Linked DNA regions of Homo sapiens: region 1 is reported to be linked to region 2. Evidence: microRNA targets listed by miRTarBase, many of them from high-throughput screens and not tested one by one. Region 2 holds a microRNA gene; the other region holds the end of a gene's coding sequence.

The links. Region 2 holds the annotated microRNA hsa-miR-5572 (GUUGGGGUGCAGGGGUCUGCU, at 1,374-1,394, shown strand). A microRNA usually pairs through its seed, bases 2 to 8, with sites in the 3' UTR of a target mRNA and lowers its output. Matches are read on the target gene's strand: a 7mer-m8 pairs with bases 2 to 8, a 7mer-A1 pairs with bases 2 to 7 and ends in A, and an 8mer does both.
Region 1: miRTarBase lists HOXD9 as a target of hsa-miR-5572. The part of its 3' UTR that is shown has no 7-base or 8-base seed match.

The regions. Positions count from the first base shown.
Region 1 is chr2:176,123,921-176,126,920 of GRCh38, forward strand. It overlaps HOXD9 (homeobox D9), which reads left to right. Exons shown (of 2, transcript NM_014213.4): 2 at 14-1,017. The coding sequence ends at 255. Among named protein-coding and RNA genes, the nearest start is that of HOXD9, 2.7 kb to the left of the region's middle.
Region 2 is chr15:80,579,806-80,583,211 of GRCh38, forward strand. MIR5572 (microRNA 5572) reads left to right here and starts at 1,298; the gene lies at 1,298-1,434. ARNT2 (aryl hydrocarbon receptor nuclear translocator 2) reads left to right here. Exons shown (of 19, transcript NM_014862.4): 16 at 606-744; 17 at 1,434-1,599. It overlaps ARNT2-AS1 (ARNT2 antisense RNA 1), which reads right to left. Exons shown (of 2, transcript XR_007064732.1): 2 at 225-2,956.

The sequences.
Region 1 (3,000 bases), not on the chromosome of region 2:
TCCCTCTTTGTAGACAACCCCGCCGCGAACTGGATCCACGCTCGCTCCACCCGGAAAAAGCGCTGTCCCTACACCAAATACCAGACGCTTGAGCTGGAGAAAGAATTCCTCTTCAACATGTACCTCACCCGGGACCGGCGCTACGAGGTGGCCAGGATTCTCAACCTAACAGAGAGACAGGTCAAAATCTGGTTTCAGAACCGTAGGATGAAAATGAAAAAGATGAGCAAGGAGAAATGCCCCAAAGGAGACTGACCCGGCGCGGTGCTGGCGGGAGCGCTCAAGGGCAGCGGATTTGTTGTTGTTGCTGTTTTCCTTTGTGGGTGTTTGGTGCTTGATTTCCAGAAACTCTCCAGCGACTTGGACTTCTTCTTCTTTTTTTTTTTCTTTTTAGATAGAAGTGACTGTGTGGTTGGTCTCTGAGGTATTTGGGGGACTCTGTATTTGCTCGTTTACGTGTTGGAAAAACCAAGTGGCTTTGGGGTTTCGCCCTATCCCACTCCCTCTCTTTCCTGCTCCATTGGTTCCTTAAGAAATGCTATATTTTGTGAGTGCAAGCTGGCTTGGGGAGCCCTCTCTTGTGTAAATGTCCCCCATGTTTCTGAAAAGTGCTGTAGTTTAGTCCCCTCACCCCCAGCACTGCCCAAACAGGGGCCAAGTGCGCCCCAATTCCAAGAATGAAGGCAGAGCGACAACAGTGCGGACACCCCGGCTGCTAGCCCACGGTGAAGCCCGGCGGGGTTGCCCACCAGTTGCGAAAGCCCCCTTTCCTCAGGGAGCACGCGGGACCTCGGTGGAGATCTCCAGTGAGGCTTAGAGGAGCCCAGGGCCTCGGGCGGGTTGGGGTTTGTCCTCAGTGCATTGGACGCGCTGCTCTCTCCCCTGAAGGCTGGGCTCGCGTGGGCGGCCGCGGGTGGTGGCCCTCCCGGTTCCTGCCCGAGGACCAGTTGTAAATGTTACTGCTTCCTACTAATAAATGCTGACCTGATCAAATGGAGCCCAGACGCTGGCCCTAAACATTGTGTGCCTGCTTTCTCTGCCTCTCTGCAAAATATCACACTCAGGATATTTCTCCTCTACCCCTGGGAGTGAGACATTGTTAAAAATTCAGGGCCCTTCCACCTGACAGATCTCTCTGATGTGTCTCTGCCTTCTCTGCCTCACATCCCTTTGTGTAGGCAGATGCAGCAGCACAGACCCTGTGGGGGGACATTGGTGCCTCCCCAAGCCTGGTTCAAGGTCCTCCACGAACTCTGTGCTTGGGCCCAGTGTTAGCCTTGCAGAAGCGCCCAGAAGAGCCAGCAGGCCCCAGAAGCCAGGCACTTTCAGGCTGGGGCTTGGGTACACAGCACCCTAACCTTCCCTGGGCTCCTGAAGCCCCAGATGCCAAACCCCTCTCCAAACAAGGGAAAGGCCAACTCTACACTCTGGAGCAACTGTCCCAGCTCGGTGGGGCTAGCTGGCTCCGGGAGGTCCCAGCTGGTCAGGCTGTGAGCTTCTGCTCCTCCCCACCAAAGCCCCAAAGTGACCTTAGCGATCAAAATGGTCAAGGCTCTCCTCCCCAGCCACCTCCATTTCACCGCCCCCTTCCCCCCACCCAGCTTCTGTGTATGTTTAGCCCCCAGCTTGGCCCTCTGAGGGCTGCATTCAGGGGCTAAAATGAAGGTCATTGTAAGTGAGGGTTTGGGTGAGCACAGCATTTGCAGGCCAAAGAGGCAGCACTGCCAAGTGGCCTGAGCTGGGTGGAAGGTGGGGGCGGTGGCAGAGATCTTGGGGGATCCCAATGAAAGAGGGGACGCGAAGAAAAAGCATAGGGGGGCTGGGAGGGAAAGCCAAGGAAGGCCCAGATCCGGCAGAAGGTGCTGCGCACCCCTGCCACTGTGGCCAGCTGGGTACCTAGGGCTCTTTGAAAACAGGAAGAGCCGAGGTGTCATAAAGCCATCTAGCGGGCCAGACGTCTGGAGGTAATGAGTTTACGACAGGCCCAGTGCTTTGCTTTGAAACCATCTCATTTTGATGTTTGTGTTTGTGGGAGAAAAGGAAAAATGCAGACAAAACTGGGTCTTAAAATCTAGACAATAAAATATAAACAAGACTGCGTTGGACCAAGAAGGCAGGGGCATGGGAGCCCCCAGGTGAGGTGTGAGCACCTAGGAAGTAAACATGAAAGAGGTAGGAAGGAAGAGGTGAATGAATTTCTGATTTTTGAAATGAACCAGGTAATGGAAGTAGCCTAAGGAGATGGCATTTTACAATATTTTGACTATGACCACGGTTTAGCTGGTTCTTTAGAAACAAACAAACAAAAAAATTGGCCTGTTATCTGGGGATAGGGTGGTTAGTGATCTTAGGTCATTTACCCAGGTGAGAGTCTCCCAGAAGTGTGGTTCGCGGGAAAAGATGAAGTTAGATGCCTATTCACAAGAATCTCTGGCCCTCCACTCCAAACTTTGAAGCAAAATGTTGTTGAAATTTATGTCTATTCACTTATAAAAAAATACAATTGTTACACCTAAACTGGAGGAAAGCAGTTTTGAAGATGAGTAAAAAGATTAACCTAACAGGAAACACTTAAGCCAATTGAATAGTCATTGCTTTTAAAAAAAATTCTAGTGGAATGCTTAGTTCAATGACTTTTGATATATATTTTTAAAATCCCATTTATTGTCCATAGAAATTCCAACAAACAGAAGCGCAAAGGGACTTTCCAGACAGCCACTCAGAGATCCAGCAAAAAGCTTTTGATTTGGCTTCGATTCCCCCCAAAATCGGCCACCTAAGTGGGCCCCAAAGCATTAAAGTTACAGTGTTAAAGTAGCAAATATTCATGATTTAATCCTAAAAGTAACAGCTGTAAGAGAAAAACAAAAACATAACAATACTTGATTTCTGTAATTTCTTGGTTGCCAAAGTGTCTGGTTCCTCTGGAAAATAAAAAGCCTCTTGGCAGTTGATATTTAGAAAGTTGTAGGTTTTGTTAAATCTAGCCTGTCCTATAAT
Region 2 (3,406 bases):
AGCACGGCACACAGCAGGGGCCTAATAAAGACAAACTGAGTTAAGTCGAAGGTGAACTGAAGGTGGGAGGGGTAAACTCTGGGTAGCAGGACTAGGCCCCATCCAGCAGGTTTTCATTGAGAAGCTTTTCTTTCCGTTTAAAACTGACAGCCTGCAACCTATTTCCTGAATCCTTAAGCCTCATAGGTGCCCCAAAGGAACAAATTAACCAGAGCACAAAAGAGTGAGTGAACAGTGGGACTGATTTTTATTCTAAGAAGCTTCTCTCTTTCTGGGAACCAAATCATCTGCTGAGAGCAGAGGATGTACAGGCATAGGATAGGGGCTGAAGAGTGCGTGGGAGACCCTGGGGAGAACGAGGAGAGGAAGTACCAGACTACTAGACATGGCAGGACTACTCAGCAGTGTAGAGGAAGCCCTGAAGGGAGAGGAGGACGGCCAAGGGGCTTTGAGGCTCACGATGTGTGAGTCATTTTCTCTAGTGACGTGCTGCATGGAGAGAGAGCCAGGAAGATGGCCCAGGGCAGATTGTGTGGTTGGCTGGGCACGTAGACTCATGCAAACCAGGTGTGTCCTCGGGATAAATGCATTTTCCTCTTTTCTAGCTCTTCAGTGGTTCATGTGCCTGGAGTGAATGATATTCAGTCCTCTTCTTCCACGGGCCAGAACATGTCCCAAATCTCCCGGCAGCTAAACCAGAGTCAGGTGGCATGGACAGGGAGTCGTCCGCCCTTTCCGGGACAGGTATGGGCATCTGTGAGGGCATCTCCCCTGGGTGACCAGAGAGGCAGAGCACTCTGGGAAGTGTTTTCTTTGGATTGCGGTTCTGAGGATGGGTCGGCTCCTAGCTGGAACCAACCACCCTAACAGCAGCTGGCTACTCAGGAGCACCATCCACCCTCAGGGCTCTCGGAGAGCCAGGTGCCCAGCCTGCAACTTCAGCAGCCTTTTCTCCTTACAGCCATGCCCTGAGGCAGCTGGCAGGGAAAGGTTGGGCAGGTTGAGACACCTCATCAAGAATGAGCCCCTCACTACTCTGGACCTCTGGCTGCCCCTGCGCCAGGAGGGCATGAAACCACCAACCCTTGTGACATCCCCAGACCCTCATAGTCACTGTGAGGGTGGGTGTTGATTGGGCTGAGGGAGTTCTAGGTGTTCATAATGCCAAGGCCTTGGTAACCAGACTCCAGAGGGCCCGGATCCTCGTAGCCCTGGGGAGTAACTTCAACCAGACGTGCCCCAAAGATCCTGCAGTTCCTGGGCCCTCACACACCGGGCTGATCCCAGGCCTGTGCCTAGCCAGACAAGAGGGTCATGGGGAGTCACTGTCAACCCAGAGCAGGCACTGCCCCTGCGACCAGCCTGGGGCATCGGTTGGGGTGCAGGGGTCTGCTGGTGATGCTTTCCATCTCTTTGCTTTGTCCTGATTGTAGCAAATCCCATCTCAGTCCAGCAAGACTCAGTCATCTCCCTTTGGGATTGGAACGAGCCACACCTACCCGGCAGACCCCTCTTCCTACAGCCCCCTCTCCAGCCCAGCTACCTCCTCGCCAAGTGGGAATGCCTACTCCAGTCTTGCCAACAGGACTCCAGGGTTCGGTAGGTGGGGAATGAGGGAGTGAGATTCTGGGAAAGCCAGCACAAATGCTTTCTGAACAGCCTGAATTCAGGAGGCTGAGCTCCAAGCTCCCAGCTACCAAAACAAGGTCTGGAGGTTTCCAAGCACCTCCTCTCTCTCTGGCTATGAGGAGGCCTATGGTGTTCCTAAGAGACTGGATGCTTAGGCCTTGGCTTTGTGATTTGACTTTATCATTTTCAAGGCATTGGGATGATGTTGCTGTGCTGTGAGGTGATCTGAATACCATTTTAACCCATTATGGCCCTGGCAAGGATTTTCAGGTCCCCCAAGTCAAAAACCTTATAGTCTTGTTTCAAGAAACTAGAGAATAGCTATAGAGACAATCAATTGCATAAATAACACTGCAAAGTTTTCTGTCTCTTTTAAATATTAAAAACACCTATCTTACTTTGTTAACAAAACCTCAGGCCATAGAGGGTTAAGGAACCGCTGTGTCCTGTGCATTTCTCAGGATCCTGGGCCTTGCCCACTCTCCGTGTGTGTAAGGAACCTCCTCAGCATGTCTCCCAGGGCTAGGGTTCCACTCCACGTCAGGACAAGCTCATAAGAGACCCGTGGTCCTGGTAAGAAGTCCAAGCTGGTGCCTGCTTTCTCACAGTGAGGTCACTGGGTGACACCCAGCAGTGCGGCTCATAGAGCTTTTCTCTACAGAATTGATTCCTCAGATGAGCGTGAATCTGAGCCCAAACATCTGAATTTCCACGTGGCAAGTTAAAAGCTTCCATTAGAACTGCTTGTCTGTCAGCCTTATGAACAATTCTGTGCAGGCAGGGCGCGGTGACTCACATCTGTAATCCCAGCACTTTGAAAGGTCAAGGTGGCAGATCACCGGAGCCCAGGAGTTCAAGACTAGCCTGGGCAACATTGCAAAACCCTGTCTCTACAAAAAAAAAAAAAAAAAATTAGCCAGGTGTTGTGGTGCATGCCTGTAATTCCAGCTACTCAGGAGGCTAAGGTGGGAGGATCATTTGATCCCAGGAGGTTGAGGCTGCAGTGAGCCATGATCACACCACTGCACTCCAGCCTGGGTGACACAGTGAGACCCTGTCTGAAAAAACAAAAGAAAGAAAAATGCTGTGCAGAGCCCCTAGCACACAATGGGGAGTTGTCATCTGCTGCCCAGCCCTCCCCACCTCCTCCACTAACAGCAGCACGTCCGTCCCACTCAGCCCGAGGTCTTGGGGCACAGCATTTCCTGAGGCCATGCTTGTCCCTCCAGCCTTAGTCCCATTTACTTGCAGTGTGTCTCCTCTTCGTCTGTTAAGTATTCTCGCCACGTGGTTCACTGGAACCCAGTTTAGAAGCACAGCACCCTGTCTGAGGAAGGAGAAACCCCATAGCAGTTGCTCTCAAGTCAGCCAGGCACTCAGCACGGTTACCACCTTGAGCCCAGAATCCTGTTTCTCAGGATAGCATCCACCTTCCTGCAGTCACACGTGAGATCCTTCTCCACATCTGGTTCCCCACCCGGGTGTGGAGAGACCCCTTCACCTCCTCCTGAAGGTGGGCCTCATAGACTCAAGGCCTCCTGGGTACCTAGTCCTTCCCGGAAGCCCAGGGACCATCTGGCACCGATCTACTCAAAAAAACCTTCAGTGCCAGGCCCCGAATCAGCCCTGGAAGACAGGAGACCTGGTCCCCACCCAGAGAAGGACACAGTCCAGAGACTGGGTCAGGGGAGACAGACAGAGGTAAAGGGAGGCAGGCAGGACAGTCTGCAGGTGCGGCAGCCATGGTCTGCGTGGGGGCCCTTGTGGCTGCAGGCCA